Regions from separate parts of the Homo sapiens genome. Here all the other regions are linked to region 2. The links come from fine-mapping of genetic effects on gene expression. A gene starts in region 2. Each other region holds a variant in brackets. All regions are shown on one strand. Distances are from middle to middle. Region 1 overlaps SCLT1 (sodium channel and clathrin linker 1). Region 2 holds the start of SCLT1 (sodium channel and clathrin linker 1). Region 3 overlaps SCLT1 (sodium channel and clathrin linker 1). Region 4 overlaps SCLT1 (sodium channel and clathrin linker 1).

Region 1 (5,156 bases), 120 kb before region 2:
TATACCGATTATTTTGCCACCTAGGTAATGAGCATAGTACCTGATAGGTAGTTTTTCAGTACTCACCCTCCTCCCATCCCCTACCCTCCAGTAGGGCCAGTGTATATCGTTCCCTTTAGCGTCCATTTGTACTCAATGATTAGCTCCCACTTGTAAGTGAGGACATGCGGTATTTGGTTTTCCGTTCCTGAGTTAATTTGCTTAGGATAATGGCCTCCAACTGCATCCATATTGCTGCAAAGGACATGATTTCATTCTTTTTATGGCTGTGTAGTATTCCATGGTGTACACGTACCACATTTTCTTTATCCAGTCTGCTGCTGATGGGCATCTAGGCTGATCCTATCTCCTTGTTATTGTGAATAGTGCTGTGATGAACATACATGGACATGTGTCTTGATAGTAGAATGATTTATACTACTTCGTTATATACCCAGTAATGGGATTGCTCAGTTGAATGGCACTTCTGTTTTGAGTTCTTTGAGAAATCTCCAAACCTCTTTCCACAGTGGCTGAACTAGTTTCCATTCCCACCAGCAGTGGATAAACATTCCCTTTTCTCAGCAATATTGCCGGCATCTGTAATTTTTTGACTTTGTAATGATAGCCATTCTGACAGGTGTGAGATGGTATCTCATTGCGATTTTGATTTGCATTTTTCTAACTCATAGTGTTGAGCATTTTTTCATTTGCTTGTTGGCCACATGTATATCTTCTTTTGAAAAGTGTCTGTTTATGTCCGCTGCCTACTTTTTAATGTTTTTTTTTCTCTTGTAAATTTGTTTAAGTTCTTTATTGATGCTGGATATTACACCTTTGTCAGATGCACAGTTTGCAAATATTTTTTCCCATTCTGTAGGTCGTCTGTTTACTCTGTTGATAGTTTCCTTTGGTATGCAGAAGCTCTTTAGTTTAATTAGGTCCCACTTGTCAATTTTTGCTTTTTGTTGGAATTGCTTTTGGAGTCTTTGACATAAAATCTTTGCCAGGGCCTATGTCCAGAAGTGTTTCCACAGTTTCTTGATGAGAACTTAGCCATTAATCTTATCATTGCCTCTCTGTTCAGGTCATTTTTCTATTGCTACTTTCAGGTATTCTCTTCATAATTGGCTGTCAGTATCATTGTGATGTATCTCAAAGTGATTTTGTTTACTCATTGAGATTCTTAAATTTTAATGTTTTCCACCAAATTTAGGAAGTTTTCAGCCATTATTTCTTTAATTTTTTTCTGCTCCCATCCCCCTCCCTTTGGCAGTTCCAATTACACTTATGTTGCATTGCTTCACATTGTTCTACAGATTTCTGAGCTCTTGTTCATTTTTCTTCAATCTTTTAAACTCTCTGTTCTTTGGACAGGGAAATTTCTATTGATCTGACTTCAAGTTCATTGATTATTTCTTCTGTCTTTCCCAATCTATTTTTGAGTCCATCTAGTGAAATTTTTATTTCAGTTGCTGAACTTTAAAGCTCTAGAGTTTCTTTTTTAAAAATTGTGTTCCAGTTCTCAATTAAAATTATCTATCTCTTCCTAGAGACTTTAATTTAAAAACAGATTTTAATTCCTTGAACATATATATAATAGCTGACTTGAAGTCTCTGTCTGCTAAATCTAACAGATCGATCCATTTAAAGTCAGTTTCTAATGGCTTCCTCCCTCAGCACCTCCCCCACAAGTATAGGTCATACTTTTCTGTCTAGTAATTTTTGAAAACTCAATAGTGTAGATAATACATTGCAGTTACTCTGTTTCGTTCTTTTGAGCATTAAATTTTTATTTTTATTTTTTTAGTTCAAGTAGACAATTATCTTGCTTGGTCTTGAAATTTGAAATCTGTTCCACATACAGTAGGTAGCAGCTGATATCTGTAATTAGTTCTTACTGCTTTCCACTGTTGCTTTTATAACTAGGCTCTGTGCCTACATAATTTGAAGATCAGTCAAGATTTGGGCAGAGTTAGGGCTCATCATCTTTGTGGTTCCCTCGCTTCTACAGATTCCCCTGTAATATCCAGCTGCCTTTCCAGCTTTGGGCTTTGTCCTCTGATACTTCAAACAATAAGGAAGTCTTCAGTATGCTGATGCTTCAATTGCACACATTTCTCGCATGTATTCAATTATAAAAAGTAGCAAACTCAAATATCTAGTTCCATACATCTCTATCTTTCAAAAGTAAATTTCTCTTAGGTCTCTGCCTGCTTCTTCACTGGCCTCTCTGGGGTCCCTCCCCCACTTCCATATGCATAATTTAGTTGTCAGGCATGAATTTGGTAAGAATTTACACTCAGAATTTGGCTCTCACTTTTTCTGTGTGTTTCTCTTGCTGCCAGTATTTCTTCTTTAAATTTCCTATTGCTGGCCGGGCGCGGTGGCTCACACCTGTAATCCCAGCACTTTGGGAGGCTGAGGCAGGCAGATCACAAGGTCAGGAAACTGAGATCATCCTGGCTAACACGGTGAAACCCTGTCTCTACCAAAAATACAAAAAATTAGCCAGGCGTGGCGGCGTGCACCTGTAGTCCCAGCTACTTGGGAGGCTGAGGCAGGAGGACGGCATGAACCCGGGAGGCAGAGCTGACAGTGAGCCGAGATCAAGCCACTGCACTCCAGCCTGGGTGACACAGCGAGACTCTGACTCAAAAATAAAATAAAATAAAATAAAATAAATTTCCTACTGCTTTTCTAGCCCTAAACTTTGACC[T/C]GGGTACCTTAAGCCCATACAAAGGTGTTTTCTGAAGCCACAGCTGTGGGGGTTGGGAGAACCATCAGGCCAGACATCCAAAATTTAACAATTCTTATTTCTTTTACTTCTTTCTGTTTTGGGTGCTTTCTGGTGTTTTAAAAATTTATCCAAGTTTTAAAATTGTTACCTATGGGAGGGTTCTTGTAACACTTAGAAAATCTACCATTATTAGAAATCTATAATCAACTTTTTACAGATTGGAAATAAGGCTTAGAAAGTTACATAGCTAATAAGTCCCAGAGTGAGAATTTTCAATAATTATATCTATCTAAAACTAAAGCCTGACTTTTCCTTGACATCCTTCTGAAATTTCTCTATTACATATTAAAAAGAACCAGAGTCTATTGTGTCAATAAATACTTTAGTAAATAACATAAAAGTAGTATTAAATGCTTGTTTTCCACCTGCAAATAACCAGTTAACTGAAACTTGATCTTGTATCAATTTGCGTTTCAGTAATGATGTGCTTAGGTGTGATTATGACGTTCTATTGAATTAGGCTATAGAGAATGGAAATAAAAAATTCTTTATAAAGTTGTTTTCAATAATATAGTTTAGCTTCCTACTTTCATATTTTAAGGGTATTAAAATAATTAATTCATCTTCTGACAACCCTCTTTAACACCTAATCCAAAATAAATCAACAAAATAGAAAGAAAACTAAGCAATAGGTACCCATTTGTCTTAGAAATAGAAAATACCTTCTTTTTCATCTGTCCCTGCAGATCTTCAGTCACATTAGTTAACTCTTCCACTTTTGCTACAGCAACTCTCAGCTCTAATTTGGCTTGCCTAAAAAATAAAGTAAATTAATAAACACTGTTTTCATAGACCACTAAGAATAAAAAATTAGAATAGAAATCTGAATTTGGTAAAATCAGTTCTAACTCTTGTTTATCTAAAATGGATCCATGGAATAAATTTTGGAAGATTCCTTTATTACTAATGAAGTGCATGTAGAAGATATTAAAGAGGAAAAAATATAGCTGAATGGCGAAGGGTATGAAGTAGAGGTCATGAATGCTGTACTTGGGTAAATTATATTATATACCAAAGTGATTCAATAAGTTTCTTGAAAAAGCACTTTATCATCTTGATACATTACCTAACAAGAGCTCCAGTGCACTAAGAAGAATATACTTATGTCTATAATATCTTTATAGATGGAGATGGAGATATACTGCTGATTGGACTTTCTATGAAAATGAACTTAAACTTCAATACCTTGATCATTCCATAGACACCAGAAGTTTGTATTATGTAAACACAACATAAATTAAAACATTTGTTCCACCATAATACAATGTTTATTTTCTTCAGAGACTGTATTGGCAACAAATGAAAAAGATAAATTTTTTTGAACATTCTAACAGAATTAAATAAGTTTCAATATCTTCTTAACTCCTCATAGGAAATGATTTTAGAACAATAATATGACTTTCTTAAACAGAAAAAATGATTTTTAATATCATCATAATTAAGCATTAAGTGAGTATAAAACCCTTTGATTATCTAAAGAACATACATTTTCAAGAAAAAAATACTGTAGTGTAGGAACTGTTCCCTATTTCTTAATTACATTTTATGTATGTATCTAAATGTAAATCATATTTGTGCTATAGAACTTACAGAAATTATTTGATGCAAAATTCACAAGTAAATGTTAGTTCATTTCCTTTTGACTCTTTGTCTTTAAAACTGCATTACTTATATAGTTATAAATTTCCTACAATAGAAAATACAAATCTAATAATAGCTGATAATATCTCAGGTAGTTATTAGTGCCAGGGACTGTTGTAAATGCTTTGCAGTCATCTCACTTGACACTCGATAATAACTGTGAATTAATACTACTATTATATCAAACTGAAGTAGAGGAGAGCAAGGTTGATAGAGGTTTACTAATATGCCCTAGGATTCACAATACGTAATAAAACTAGTATTTAATGAGTCCCCTATGACAGACTGCCTACCCTCACATGGTCCTAATAATATTTTATATGATGAGGCATTTAAGAAAATGTTTTGCTTTAAATTAACCAAGATTATAAAAAAAATCAAACAGGCCAGGTGCGGTGGCTCATGCCTGTAATCCCAGCACTTTGGGAGGCCGAGGTGGGAGGATCACAAGGTCAAGAGATTGAGCCCATCCTGACCAACATAGTGAAGCCCCATCTCTACTAAAAATACAAAAATTAGGTGGGTGTGATGGCACGCGTGCCTGTAGTCCCAGCTACTTGGGAGGCTGAGGCAGGAGAATCGCTTGAACCTGGGAGGCAGAGGTTGCAGTGAGCCGAGATCGTGCCACTGCACTCCAGCCAGGTGACAGAGCAAGACTCCATCTCAAAGAAAAAAAAAAAATCAAACAAAAATAGGTTTTTTTCATTTGCAAAATGATTCCCTAAGGACAAAATAA
Region 2 (5,156 bases):
CTGTATGAACCATAGATCTAAATGTAAAACCTAAAACTATAAAACTCCTAGAAGAAAATATAGAAGAAATCTTTGCAGCCTTGGGTTAGGCAATGATTTCTTTTATGACACCAAAAACACAATTCATAAAAGAACAAATTGATGAATTAAATTTCATCAAAATTAAAAATGTTTGGCTCCAACACTATTAAGAGAATGAAAAGAAAAAATAAGTCCATCACCACTCTGCCAGTGAGTCTCACACCCCACTAATGAATGAATTCTTAGTTCCTTAGATTGATAATGCAAGTACCTCTTTGAACAGGTTCCTAAAAACTAACTGATCTTTCCCAGACAAAGGTGGAAGAACGGTGCACAGCAAATATGCTACAAGCTTACTCTACTAGTAGCCTGGTTGAGTGTGGAGCTGCCTGTCGTTATGATATGTAAAGCTGAAATAGTAATTATCAGAGGAAATGTCATGTGGGGACATGAGAGTTGAGAAGTACCAAACATGAGTTGAGAAGTACCAAAACATGAGTTGAGAAGTACCAAAACAAATGGTCTTGACCTGGGCTCCCAAATCCAAACGGAACAAAGAGACAATCAAGATCAACAGAAATCAGTGTAGAAAAAGTCAGAGGCAGGTGGAAAGAAGGCAAGTGATCTATCTTTATCTGGGCTGGTATTTAGGTGGGTCACTTAATGGAATAACCCACCACCTTCAAATGGCATGCAAAATCCGGTTAAAGAAAAAAGGAGAGCGACACAGACACTCAACTCTCATTCTTATCTCTTCATGCAAACGCTACCATTCTATGCTCCGATTTCCTGAATAAAATCAGTTATTTTAAGCCTTTGAACCATTCCTTCTTCTGCTCCTTCTGCTTGAGATTTCCTTCTTGCACTCCACTTGTCTTCCATGGAACTATTAAATACCACTCATTTTTAAAAAAATGTTACTATGCTTCAGTTGTCTTATTTGTTTTCCCCTGGTATTTGGATCTCAGTTTTATCTAAGAATTCTGGCTGGATCATTCTTATAAAATTAATAGTTTCTGACCACCTCAAGTACTATCCTGACTCTAGCCAAACTCCTCATCAACCAATTCCTGTCCCACACTACTCTTACGGTGGCCAGTTAGCTGTTCTTATGGGGTGGGGATATTCCCACTGCAAACCTAAGAAATAATGCTAATGTTATTGTGTCATTATAGTGTCATTAATTATTTTAGATAACATATACCATGCACTTAATATGTGCCAGACACTATGCTCAATGCTTTTTCATCATCTCATTTAAGTCTCACAACTTCAAGAGGATTCTTGTGTTCTTATACTCATTATATAAATGAGAAAACTGAGGTGCAGAAAAGCTAGGAAACTTGCTCGAGGTCACAGACCTGGAAAGAGGTAGGCTGTGAGCCCAGACAGACTAAATCCAGAGGCTGACTGAGTTCTTAACCACTGGTCTATAATGCTACCAAAACGGAACTTACTACCTTTTTCCTAACTTCCCCGTTGCTCAAGCAAAAACTAAGTTGCTCTCTACCTCTTTCTCTCAAATCCCCTGATCTCCAGTCTCCCTGTGCCCAACTTAGTTTACTTCTTACCTGAATGATGACAGTAGACAACTAACTGCACTCTGCTATAATGCATATTCCCCGTAAAAATCAGACCGGGCCTTCTAAACTACAATTTGATCATGCCACTCTCAACTGAATTCCTATAACCCATGCAATGGTCCATACTCCTTAGCACAGAGAAGACAGGGCCCTTCACCATCCAGCCCCTTTCTACGCCTTCAACTGCACTTGCCATTTCCCTATATAAATATTCCAATTCAATTTACATCAATATTACACTCAAACCAGCCGTATTGCAAGTCTTTAACAAAGCATATTCCTAATCCCCTCAGTGTCACAAATATTGTTCTATTTGGGATGCCTAGAGTTTTTCATATAGTAAATTCATATTTGTACTGCACGTTTCAGCCCAATAGCACCTTCCTTGAACATATTTTAATAATAATCGTGTAATAGTTAATATTTGTTTAACACAATGTATCAGATACTATTCTAAATCCTTTACATATTTTAATATTCATTTAATCTTTCCAACAACCCTATGAGACTGTGGCAAAAGAGCCAGCAGTTGCTGTCACTTCAATATATTTTGGAATACATTTCCCTCCCCAAATTAAATTCTTGGAGGTAAAAACTGTCCTGTTTATCTTTGCAGCAGCTGTTCTTCCATAGTGTCTGGTACATAATAGAAACAGGAGTTCAATAAACATCTTTTTAATAAATGGCCAGAGAGCTGTGCCCCTAGATTTTAAATGCACACTTGGAAACTCCTGCTGGCCATTAGCCTTCTAATCTTCAGAGCACGAGAGGAGCATAACAAACATGTTTAGCGTCTAGTAGAATTCTGTGTAAGCTACAAGTACTACCACACGGTTCTGCTTAAATATACACACATCCTCACGTATAACATCAAGGTTTTTTTTTTCCTGCAACTAACTTCTTTAACTCTTTACCAATTTAAATGTACCCAACCAGCATTCAAAAAAGATTTGTCGGTCAACGACGACGATATTAAACATTGTATATGAAGTCTCAAAAAAACATGGAGCTTACTTTGCTCTCTCAGAAAGTCGATTTCTGCAGCCATTTCGATACAATTTTAGTTTAGAGCTTTCACCACCTTTACCTTCCTCTGAAAGACAGAGAGCTTGCTGTGCGGGAAAACAAAACTAAGCCAACGCTCGGTTGGTTGTCAAGCGCTCCAGCGGTGCAATCTGCATCCTACTCACGCGGCATCTACAGCCCCGCCACGCTTCTTTCCCCCGCGCCCCAGACGAGTCCCTGGCCCTGGTGAGAGACTGAAGATTGCTGGGGACTCCACGTTCAACCGAATCCCACGCTGGTGGGAAGAGGACGCGGTCGATACAGGCGTCCCGCGGGTCACTCTGGGTCTCGTCGGGCCACCTAGGAGAGTGCCGCGGGAGCTTGACGGCAGCCTGAGAGCGGCGTTCTACGCGGAGCGGCGGGGGTTGGAGAGGACAACGCCAAGACGGCTGGGAAGCCCCAGGCCAGCAGCGGAAGTCCACTCGGCCCGCCCTGCGACTTTGAAACCGGTGCCCCGGACCACTCCTTGGAGACGGTGGCGCCTCTTGCGTCATCACGCGGGCGTTGGAGCTTACGCCATCGCGCGTCCTAGAGTCCTAGCACGCTATTGGCTGGCTGTCAAGCAATGGGAGGAGTCGTGAGAACCTGGATGACAGCGGGCTGAGCCACCGGCTTGGCGCGGCGGCCAAACTGGTGGGACAGTGTCTCCAGGTAGTGAGGCCCAACCTCTTTAAAACAAACAAACAAACAAACAAAAAACCAAAATGCAAACGTGAGTAGAGAATGAAATACACAGTTTAAATGCCCTCACTATCTTTGGGTTACTAATATACTAAGCCTTTCTGGACTAAGTAAAAGATGCAGGTTCCTGCGGCTAGGGATAGAAGCCAGACTGGCGTCTTCAGAATCTCCCACCAAGGCTGTACCTCTGGAGGAGTTCTAGGTTTGGATTTGGTCATCTCAAGAAGGTAAGTACCTTCTCGGTCTTTGTGGGTCTTTAGACAAAGGAGACAACTGTTGTTTAAATATTTAACTGTGTAGTAATAAAGCGTGTAGTTAGAAGTACTCAAAAGATCTTGCAAATTCAGCAGCTACTTCTTCAAAGATAAGCTTGTTTCCTCAAATATAAGGAAAGATAAAAGGTACTTTTTTTTGCAAAAAACAAAACGGTAAAACTTACATTTGTGGATAGATTACAATTTTCATTTTTGAAAATTAATTTTGTCTGGACTTAAAACGTATTTTTTTAAAAAAAATCATTTAACATTAGAGGAAATCTCACCACTAGCAACAAAAATGTTAACTTGAAGCTAGCCACTAGTTTTGTGCTTTTAATAAATTGTATTTTTATGGACTGAAGTAAAGTTTCACTAAACAGGCATGTCATAGATGCAGCTTGATTTGGCTTTCTGTTTAACGGCTTAAGAGTTTTGTTGTCCCGTACTCATAATGTCATATAAACAAAGTAACCTTAGCGATATGTGTTAAGAAATTTTAAAAATGTATTCAAATATATGCAGTTAGGCATCTGAAGGCCTTACTCAATACTCACTGTTAATAGAATGAGATGGTCCCTTCCTCTAAAGACTAGCTGTTAAATATGGATGTGTAGCTTAATAATCATTGAAAAGGTCTAATCCAGCTTTGAGTTGGTGATAATTGAACTTGTTCTGATTTTTAGTAGCTATAACGTTTACACAAAAACTTTTTGTATAAACGTTATAGCTAAGGGAAAATTGAGTGTGCAAGGTCCAACTCGTTTTTGAAGTTCAGTATATGACTCTTTCTTCATAAACATCTCACTGACTCTCCAAGGACTTGCTTGTAACTTCTCCCACATTTGAACCTTGTATATTGTCGTATTTCTACTTGGCATCAAATAAATAATTATAGACTTAACTCTACGCTTACACCCAAACTGGATGGAAGCAAATACCTTCTGGCTATAACTGATGAGTGGTATTTACATAAAGTGAATATCTCAGGTGAAAACTTTTATGTCTGCACTCGAATTTTTTAGCTTACATGATCATAATTATGATCATGATAGTTTTTTGTTTTTGCGTTTGTGTTTGTGGTTACAAGATTTTAGTAGTTGAATTTTAATGGAGTATTTTCAACATAAGTTTCATCATTAGGAAACAAAATTGTGATGATTTCACTTATCCTTAAAGGATCCCCTCTCATGTTCCTCCTTTTCACATCTCCTGAGTTCTTTATCCACTTCTCCCAAGGTAGGTGCCACCTTAGTACTTACTTCATGCTCCTTCCTGCATTATCTGTCATGTTTTGTAGTTTGTCTCCAGGCTCCATCATAATACCTGGAACACAGAGTTGATTAAATATCTGATGGAAGGAATGAAAGAATTCAGTGGATGTTCATGAAAAGTATCTATTAGTATAAATTGAATACAAGGAATGACAAGCAGAAATGTATGTAGTTTGTGTGTAACTCTTGTCAAGCCACCATTTAATGTTTTTATATGACTTTTCTGCAATAAAGAAAACCCCTAAAGTTGTATAGATTGAAAATTAGTGACATTTCAC
Region 3 (5,156 bases), 180 kb before region 2:
TCACGCCTGTAATCCCAGCACTTTGGAAGGCCAAGGTGGGTAGATCACCTGAGGTCAGGAGTTCGAGACCAGCCTGGCAAACATGGTGAAACTCCATCTCTAGTAAAAATACAAAAAAATTAGCTGGGTCTGGTGGCAGGAGCCTGTAATCCCAGCTACTCGGGAGGCTAAGGCAGGAGAATCGCTTGAATCTGGGAGGCGGAGGTTGCAGTGAGCCAAGGTTGTGCCATTGCACTCTAGCCTGGGCAATAAGAATGAAACTCCGTCTCAAAAAAATATAATAAATAGGTAAATAAAATAACAACAATCTCTCATTTAAGTAAGATTAGTACATATATACTGCAGTTACAGATACTATACACTAATAAGTTAACTAGTAAAACAGCTTCTTCTTTGAAGCTCAAAATTCTTTGTGATACATACATTGCAAGATAAAGTAGTAGTAGCTAAGAGGGGATAATTATAGAGGAATTAATAAGATATTACAAATTAAACTTCAAACCAAAAGATACCATACAGAAACTCAAATTTTTAAAAAGCTTCTGATCCTAAGTTCTCCGATACTAAGATGAAAAATTACCTATGAAAAAATTATTTTATTTAATTATTTGGTGTTACATTTAGTTTTGACCATAGTTACTTATGGGTAGATAATTTTAAAAATCACAGGTACTGGTAATCATATTTAATTGTCAGTTGCGAAAAGGTATAGAAGTTTCCACGGGGAATAAAGCAAGTCAAGGGAGGACTACGTATATCATGACTATACTTATATTTGGTTTTGCCTCTAATATTCTCCTAACTGTAGCAAATAGGTGGACAAAAGCAAGCAAGAAAATAGCAACTTAAAAGAATTCAATTCTTATGAAGTAGAGAGGACAGAGGCAAACAGCCAAGTACTTTCAAGATTCAATGCATACAACTAATTTAGAGACCAAGGAATGCTAGCACTTTTTAAAAGGCATATTTTCAGGGGGAAAGCTTTGATGCTTAATACATCACAATAATGCACACAGAGAAGCAGGATGCTGAGCCCTAACCTGAAAAGGCTCACTTTTGAAAGCGAGTAATAACACTTTTGATATGAATGCTAGAATATATAATGCTGTGGTATATATAGAGACATCATTACACGGAGAGTCAAATGCATCAAACAAGCCATTTACTTTTAAAATGCTCTGTAGTTTATTTTGCAATTTATTATTAATTAAAGACCTAATTGGTTCAAGACTTGGACTATACCATTGAATCACTAAAAACAAAAACACTTCTAAGGAGAACAAATGAATTCTTCCCCAGAGATATGGAAGTACCATCTAGCAGTTAGTCTGGTACTTTACTGATGCTCAATATGGATGCTATTGTATGTCAAGGGTAGATTATCACCTTTGTAACGTATTTTTTCATTAAAATTAAAAATAAATTTTTTAACTTGAAAATTATAAATCTATTATGACTGTCATAGAATTTTGTATTATGACCAATAGGTAAGATAGGTCAGTGAAAATACTTCAGTAGATACATTTTATTGATTTCATGCATAATCTTCAGTATTATTTATGTTCTCCAAAAAGGAGGGATACAATTCATATATATAAATCTTGCCTAAAATCTACTGCCTTCTAGAACTAGTAATCTTTTTGTGCAAGTAAAAGTAAGTACATGGGCTTTTCTCTCCTACTCTTCCTCCTCCTCCTTCCCCTCCTCCTCTTCCCCTCCTCCTCTTCGCCCTCCTCCTCCTTTTTCTTTGTATATATATATAAATAGAGACAGGGTCTCAATGTGTTGTCCTTTACCAAGACTTGGTTTTTAAGGCTGGGCAGAAAAGGAGGTAAGCTTTGAAACAGAAAGAAAAAAAGATGGCAAAAATCCTAGTGATATTTACTGGATTTACTGGATTCACATATACCACTGGTCAAGATATAAACTGCAATCTTGACTATTTAGGCTAGGCAGGGCTTTGTTACCAAATGTGATTTGCTGAGCATATCTGGCCAGTGCTGGCAGAAAGTTCAAATAAATTTAAAAGCCAAGATTTCACTTAAGTAGGAATTTTCTTTAGAAGGTTTGTTGGTTTGCTTCAAATTGCTTATTCCATGAATTATTTCTATTTGTTTCTCTCAGGGTAGTTAACCATTTCATGTTGCTACGTTCGGCATTCTGTTGTTGTGGAAAATTGTTTTTTAAAACAATTCTTTGTATTTAACTGAACATCTAACAAGGAGGCACTACAGCAAAACAAAAA[T/C]AAAATCTAGGGACAAATGAAGAGTTTGTTCTTACACTGGAGCATTACAGCCAAGTTGACAGGAAACACAGGCATGGGAAAATATAACTGCAGTGTGGGAAACTGCAGAAGTTCTCTTCTGATTGCTTCTCTTTTCTCAGTGAAACAGGAATTGAAGTTATTGCCTAAAAGGGATGATGGGGGAGGAGTTGCAAAAAGATTTGAGGACAGAATAAAGGGTATGAAATAGTCACCAAAGAGAGTAGAATATATAAAATGATTGTCTTGCAGCACTAAAGGTCCCTTTTGTGGTCATGAATTTAAAGTGAGACAACCCAGAATGGCTGTGTGTGTTTTTTCCAGCCACCTTGAGCTGAATGAGTAAAGCTACAGAGAAGACGAGTTATATTTAAACAGGGCTGTGGTTGGCCAAGGAAGAAGAGAAAGAAGGGCAGGAGAGTGGAGGATGATTATCTCTGCTGACCTCTTCTAAAATGGGGCGCTCTCAAAAATACATACAGTGCCTATTGGCTTTTTCTGTTTATTTTTCTCTTTAGCACTCACCATCTATCACATATTTAATTTCTCTTGTTTAATTTGAGACCAATTAATGTTTGTCTCCCCTATTAGAATGAAAGCTCCATGAGGGCAGGGATTTTTGCCTGTTTTGTTCACTGGTATTGTCTTTTAAAAGGTATGAGTCTTTGCTGGATAACAGCAAAGCAGGTATCAGAGTACTGGTACTCACCCGCTCCTCACCACTGCCCACAAAGAGAAGTGACTAGCTGGCTTACTACTTAGCAGCTATTTCTAAAGCACTGGGCGATTTGGATATCATTTTGATCTTTAAAACTAGTAATATTGCCGGGCGCGGTGGCTCACGCCTGTAATCCCAGCACTTTGGGAGGCCGAGGCAGGTGGATCATGAGGTTAGGAGATTGAGACCATCCTGGCTAACACGGTGAAACCCCGTCTCTACTAAAAATACAAAAAAATTAGCTGGGCATGGTGGCTGGCGCCTGTAGTCTCAGCTACTCTGGAGGCTGAGGCAAGAGAATGGCATGAACCCAGGAGGTGGAGATTGTAGTGAACCGAGATAGCCACTACACTCCAGCCTGGGCGAAAGAGCGAAACTCCGTCTCAAAAAAAAAAAGAAACTAGTAATATTATCTTTTATTGTAATAAAAAATCCTTAATGTGATAGATGTTTCTCTAAAATCTTAAATAGAGTAATAAAAAATAGGAAGTGATGAGAAATGAGATTGGACATACATGTGAAACCAGATCTAAAAGCTGTTGCAGCAGTCCAGGGATAAATGAAGAGTTTGTAAGAGAGGTCAGAGATGATGGTGATCTGATCTAATATAGGAGTAGCGGGGATGAAGGCAAATGGATTTGAAAACATTAAGGAGAAAGAAGAGAAATAATCAAACATATCTGAAAGCTGACTATAGAGGTGCACAAAGGGGATACAGAAAGAGGAGCAATCTATGGACCACATTTAGGTCATTCTATGGACCACATTTAGGTTGTTTTCAAGATCATGGTTATTGGAAACTATAGTTTCTTCTACAGTATTTGAATTTTAGTTAAAATCAATGCCAAAAAGCCCACACAAACAAATAATTTTCAGTATTCAAATGAATTAAGCTATGATGGTGTGATAACAAGTAGCAAGATTGATGAGGTTTTTTGACACAACTCATTCTAGTAAACTCCTTTAAGTTAGTCATATATGGGCTACTCTGCTTGCTCATAAAGGGGCACGGCATACTAGAATTCAAGTTGAAAGGATTCTTCTTTGGTGTTGCACTGCTGGCTAGCACACTCCTTTAAAAATCACATTTCAATAATTCTTAAATAAATTACCTGTAAACATTTAAAGAATCATTATCAAGTGCCCAACACTATACTATAGACTGTTATGCTTAACCAAATAGTTATGTTCATATATAGATACCGATTCAACATACTCTGCCAATAATTTCTAGTGGTCTGGTGCCTGTGGACATACATGCCCAGTTCACAGAGGTCTGTGTTATACGGCCAACGTGTACTTTTCTAGATTTCAGAATAGGAGTTCAAAAAATTGAATAATCCTAGCTGCAATGTTTTGTGCAATATTTCTCCTCTGGAAGTATGACCTTAATTATTAGCAATACTGATTTTTAAAAACTATTTCACCCAATTAATCCTAGTGCTTATGTTCAGGACTATGTATTCCTTTATTATCAACAGTCTTCATAATAATTCTTAGAATCAATAGCATTTTCAAGTTTGTAAGATGAGAAACAAGTTTCATTATACAGCAGTGGTACAATTATGGGAATTCAAGTTTCTTAGGTCTGTTAAATACTGGGGGCACATTATATCATGTTTTAAAAGTTCAAATGCATTTCAAAAAGCTGAAATTCTACTTTGACCAGAAAGGATCAAAACTGGAAGAAGAGTTTGGCCTAGAAAAGAAACAATAATTGATAAAATTCACTAGCTTTCATTCATTCATTCATTCATTCATTCAACAAATATGTTCTGGATATCTACTAGTGCTGGACACTCTTTTAAGAGCTAGGGATACAGTGAGGAATAAAACAAACTTTATGGAGCTGATAGTCCCATAGGAAAGACAGACTGTTTTAAAACATGTAATGAAACAAGTATAAAACATAATTACTGACAGTGATGAATGCTAGGAGAAACAAAGATAGGCAATGGGACAGAATAAGTTCTTAGTGGCAAAGCCTTATTCATCTTGTGTTTCTAGCATTTAGCAGAATGCTTGGAGAAGAATGGTCACTCAGTTGTCATATAAATTAAACTGAGTTTTAAGGGATCTGCTTTTGTTTCTGGATCCATTTGTATACATCTGCAGACTGAAGTATTAGACATTTTAAATTGCAAGGTATAATTCTGAACTTGATAGAGTGAAAAG
Region 4 (5,156 bases), 140 kb before region 2:
TTCCTCTATAATTTTATGAATAGTAAGGACATTTATAAACCAAATAGTAAGATAAACTATTAAGAAATAGGAAAATCCAATAATGGCACCAGCCATGATTTAAAATCAAAAGTGAACAATGTATATTTTTTACAAATTTTAATTATTTGAGAGATATCTAAGAAATAAAGTATTTTCATATTTTAAAGAAATAAGCCACGTCATATTTTTGTTCAATTTTATAGCCAGAACAGAAATATGTGACAATTTATTCATTATATTTACTTTAGTCAATAGGAAGAGATACATGTAAAGTTATTCTCAATTCAACAGGTTAATTCTACATATTTGAAGGACATGCCGTGAATAATTTGGGATTAAATGAAATTCACAGAACAATGCTAAAAATAGTGCTATCTCTGGGTATTAAACTTGTAATTTTAATTTTCTTTTATACATATTTTTCATTTATACATATTTTCTCATACATATTTTCCATTTCTTTTTACAATGAGTATATATCACTTTTAATAATAATTTTAAAAGTTTACTTAAAAAAATCAACTTGGCAACAGTGTGGAACTCAGAGGGGGCAAAGACGCAGCAAAATGCTTGGCACACAGGAAGTGCTCAATAAATACTTCCTGAGTGAATAGCTGTAATGGCAGGGAAAGGCTGGCTACAGGAAATCAACAGGAACACCTAAGGAAGGAACAATCTGGGACTGACTATGAGAGTAAGTTCAGTTTCAGACATGTTGAGTTTCAGATGCCTGGTAGGACTACATATTTGAATAGGGAAATAATTGGATTTTAGGAAGCATCTGTATTTTCCGTTTGCAAAACATTTGGAATGAATGAGATCACAATGCTTTTGAAAAATTCTACTTAGATTATTTAAAGCTTCATGCAAAAGATGACCTTCATCAACCTCAAAATCAATTTGAATTTATTTTAGGATAAGAAAATACAATTAGAGGAATGCTCATACCAAGAATACTTTAATAAAATATTTTTATCATTAAAAGTATAAAGTTTATTAATATTTATTTTAAAAATATGTCATCAAGAATATTTTAGGCTATAGTCCAATGTTACAGTACTCTCAACTTCACAAATAGGAAAGACAGAGCTCCTGCAGAAAGGATATAGAAGATGACAAATTAAAAAGCCCAGGGTTTACTTTGGACTCTGCCTTAAATTAAAAATTTTATCTTGGGAAACTATCTAATTTCAGTCATATAAGACAAAGTAATAGATTTTTTTCTTTACACCATGATTCTGTAAAAGTAATAGATTTCTAAGAAATACTTCTGCAGGAAGAAATGTTGTACAGTGGCTTTATGGAAATAAAAATTCTACCACTTAGTTGCTTGGGAGAAAGCAAACATTTTAACTTTATTTTTTCTAAACTGATGGAAGTTTTGAAAACCAGTTTAAATCTACAGTTCACCTAGGAGAGAAATAATATTGCCCACAAAAAATACAGATAAAGAAAAAAAAGGAACATCTTTATTTTATCCAGTGGAGGGCTATACAGTATATCCCACTATCCTACTGGAGATAATTTTAAAGGAAAGGAGCCTTTACTCAGTTCCTTTAGTTAGTTTTTAAACACTTAGGTTAATAATTTCATATGGAGTCTTTATAACTATGTAGGCAAGTATTTTAATTTTAATTTACAAATATTTAGGTAGAATTTAGTCTTTAGTTGTGACTTAAATTCTGAATTTTAAATATAATTAAAAATCCTTACTTCTTTCTTGGTTCTTATGGTAGCATCTTGTACAAACCGAGAAACTGTCTCTTTCATTTTCTCTATGTCTTCTTCTTTTTGCTTCTCCTCAAGTAGAGCCTTCAGAAAATAATCATTTCATGTTATAGATAACATTATTATTAGTAAAGATAATAACAGGTGAAAACCTATCCACTAGTCACTTCCTTATTCAAAACTTCTGGGACATCTCTACTTGAATATCATGTTGAAATCACGAATGATATTTATTTTCCCTAACCTCCTCACCTGCCCTTGTCCTAACTAAAGACACTTTCTCTATGGTATTTATTTCAGCCAGTGTTTCTAACACCCTTCTAATCTCTACAGCCAGAAATCTTAAAACCATTGTTGAATTTTCCATTTTTTCAAGTCCCTATATAAAGTAAATAATCAAATCTAGGTATTGTATCCTTATAAGAATCTCTTGAATTTCTCTCTCTTTCCATTATTTAGTATTATTCAAATTATGTCACTCATTAACTCATAATTTGATCATTGCAGACACTACTTGTTTTGTCTCTTTGATGTATTTCTATAATTCCAATCATTTCCATCCTCCACCAAATAAATATTGCCATAATCCTAGCTCTGCTGTCAGTCACAGTCCATTTCCTTGCTTCTCTGAGAAGCAAAACTCTGTAACTTGTTCATCTCCAAGACTTTTCCTCTCAATCTCTTTTATACTCCCTTGAATCAGGCTTTCACCACCATGATCTCCATATTGATTATCTATAAGTAAATTTTCAGTACTTCTTTACCAGCAGCACTTGAAATATTTACTTTCCTCTCCTTGTTGTACTTTCTGCATGTGATTTTCAGCACATCACACACAGTACCGGTTTTCCTCCTATCTCACTGATCATTCCTCTTCAGTCTACATTGCTGATTCTTCCTCATCTCCTGAACCTCTTAATACTGGACTACCCAAGGTTCACTTCTTGTCCCCCTCTCTATCTGTCCTTCTCTTAGTGGTCTAATCAAATCTCACAGTTTTAAATATCATTTATATGCTGACAATCCCCATATTTACATCTCTAACACAAACCTTTTTCTGGGCTTGGAACTTCTTCAATTAGGCCAAATTGAATCCATTTTAAATCAACATGTAAATGGCCCTGTGTTCTGTTCCCACCATCTTCCAAAGGTACCATACACATTTTTACCTCTGTTTTTGTAAAAATTGTTTTTTAAGATAAAATTCCTCCACCTTAAACAAGTAAGCTAGTGAGAAGTAACAG[C/G]TGTTCTTATGTAATAACCTTGAGGGGGAGAAGGGGAACTATGCTAGGCTGTACTTCCTGCCTTGTTTGTGTGATCGGCTGGGAGAACCTTTGACTTTGAACAAGCAACTGAAGATGGGAACCCTCTAGCAATTAAGCAATGAGTCAAAGAGCAGCTTAATATTGTAACCATAGACAGCCTCTGTGAGCGTCTGTTGACTTAAGATTTGAGTGAGAAGATTTGGGAGGAGGATGGGCAATGAGTGTTCCTACTATTTTCTCTGTCCACTGTGCTCTACACAAGATGTTTATTTTTAATGGCTTGGTATAAGAGTGCTCATACAAGTAGGCTTCAGAGGGTAGAGATAAAAATTTTTTCTTGACCTTAATTTTTCCAGCTGATTTAGGTATTCGACACAATTCCCAAGCATATTATGTCTATTGTGTTCCTCTTAACCATTCTAAAAGACAGTATTCAGATCACAGATGAAAATATTAGTTGAAAGGCATGATAAACACCTTAGCATCCCCACAGTTAGGATTTAGATAATTAATTCTTTTTTTATTTATGAGCTTCTCAATATCCAACTTACACTATATTCTGTTTTAGAGCTCTCTTGAAAAATCCTCTGTAAAAAGGGAAATAAAAATAAAACAAAGCATTTCCTTTGTACCCGTATTCTGCATATACTAGGCATTCGATGAATGTTGGTAAATAAATTAATGATTTAATGAACTCTACATAAGGGAGGCCGCAAAATAAACATTAAAACATTTGTTTTGTGACTTCAATAAACTTAAATGTATCATTCATAGGGAAGCAGTATATGACAAGGAACACTGTATTTGACAGCACAGGAATCACAATTGTTAGAGAATTAAAAAAGAACAGTGACATGAAGCCTTCAGTAAATAAATCTTTAAAGCTAATTAAGCTTCCGCTTTAATAAAGTAATTGAGTATATGATGAAGGGGAATAGAGACGGGTAAGATTTATCAGATTCAACTGAATAAAATATAGGGTATACTGAAGTAAAGCACTGTTAACAGTTTTTTTTTTTTAAGTATGAGACTACAGGGGATGAAGATTAGTTACGCAGCATCTGGGAGAATAAGAAAGTCTGATATTTATACATTATTTTAGAAAAGAATTGATGTTTTATCATATGATGATATCTGGTTTTACCATCCAAGAATATGGATGATTACTAATGAAAAGAGTAGCAATTTCATTTTCATGCATTTATTCAACAGCTATTGAATCCCTTACTGTGAGGTCACATGGGAGAATAGTCAACATTTTATTATATCTAAACATATTTACTAGCTTTCTTACCTGACTTTTTTGAAGGTTAGCTTCTTCTAAGAGTTGCATGCTATTTCTGGCTCTTACAATAGCCTCATATCTCTCATTTTCTAATTCATTGCACTTTGCTTGTAGCTCTCTGGTCTGTTTTTCCAGATGTGTATTTTCGGTTCTTAATTGGTTGGCTTCTTGGATTGTCACACATAATCTAGAAATCAATAATTACACTGGGAAAGTTAAACTTTTTTAAAGGGAAGGAGGGAGATTTACTGAGCATCTACTACAGGACAGGTATTATGCCAGTAACTTTCACATGTATTAATATTTTCTCATTTGATACTCATTACCCTTCTATAAAGTAGGTTTTACTATCTCCATACCTTCATTTTAAAGAACAACAAACATACCCAGAGAGGTTAGGCATTTGATTAAGATCATAGCGCTAATGAGCAGTGGGGCTGAGACTAAGCCTGGATTTTCTGATCCTAATTATGTTATACTTGTTATGGTATCACACTGTATTATATAGTTACATGACAATGATATAAAGCAAACCCTTAAGAAATGAGTTGTTCTTTACATTTATATGGTCTTTTCTCTTTTCTCTCCTTTCATACTCTCTACCCAGACAAGCTATGTTAACTTACTAATGTATATCTTAAAATAATTTTCTCAATATTCATATGATCATATGTACATATATATATATACTCATACACATATACACATAAATATACACACATATTATACATACAGGTAATGACAGGAGCTTTTTAAACTTTTGTTATAACAATAAAAATCATAGTATACACCCTTTTCTGTACTTGCTTTTCTCATCCAATAATATAGAAATCTCATCAAGTTAGAAAGGCTCCTTC

Evidence for each region. PIP is the estimated chance that this variant, and not a neighbour inherited with it, causes the effect.
Region 1: its variant is the best candidate, but not a certain one, in a credible set for the expression of SCLT1 in whole blood (TOPMed, PIP 0.71).
Region 3: its variant is the best candidate, but not a certain one, in a credible set for the expression of SCLT1 in whole blood (TOPMed, PIP 0.84).
Region 4: its variant is the best candidate, but not a certain one, in a credible set for the expression of SCLT1 in whole blood (TOPMed, PIP 0.51).

What each region holds. Positions count from the first base shown.
Region 1 is chr4:128,966,937-128,972,092 of GRCh38, forward strand. It overlaps SCLT1 (sodium channel and clathrin linker 1), which reads right to left. Exons shown (of 21, transcript NM_144643.4): 10 at 3,442-3,532. Among named protein-coding and RNA genes, the nearest start is that of SCLT1, 120 kb to the right of the region's middle. The variant T/C (reference allele first, on the strand shown) is at 2,699.
Region 2 is chr4:129,090,452-129,095,607 of GRCh38, forward strand. It overlaps SCLT1 (sodium channel and clathrin linker 1), which reads right to left and starts at 3,088. Exons shown (of 21, transcript NM_144643.4): 1 at 2,619-3,088. The coding sequence starts at 2,652. It also overlaps a transcript of C4orf33 not described here. RefSeq lists an enhancer at 2,783-3,352.
Region 3 is chr4:128,910,998-128,916,153 of GRCh38, forward strand. The region is part of intron 18 of SCLT1 (sodium channel and clathrin linker 1); the gene reads right to left. Among named protein-coding and RNA genes, the nearest start is that of JADE1, 100 kb to the left of the region's middle. RefSeq lists an enhancer at 2,324-2,503. The variant T/C (reference allele first, on the strand shown) is at 2,246.
Region 4 is chr4:128,955,292-128,960,447 of GRCh38, forward strand. It overlaps SCLT1 (sodium channel and clathrin linker 1), which reads right to left. Exons shown (of 21, transcript NM_144643.4): 12 at 4,309-4,486; 13 at 1,735-1,833. Among named protein-coding and RNA genes, the nearest start is that of SCLT1, 140 kb to the right of the region's middle. The variant C/G (reference allele first, on the strand shown) is at 2,994.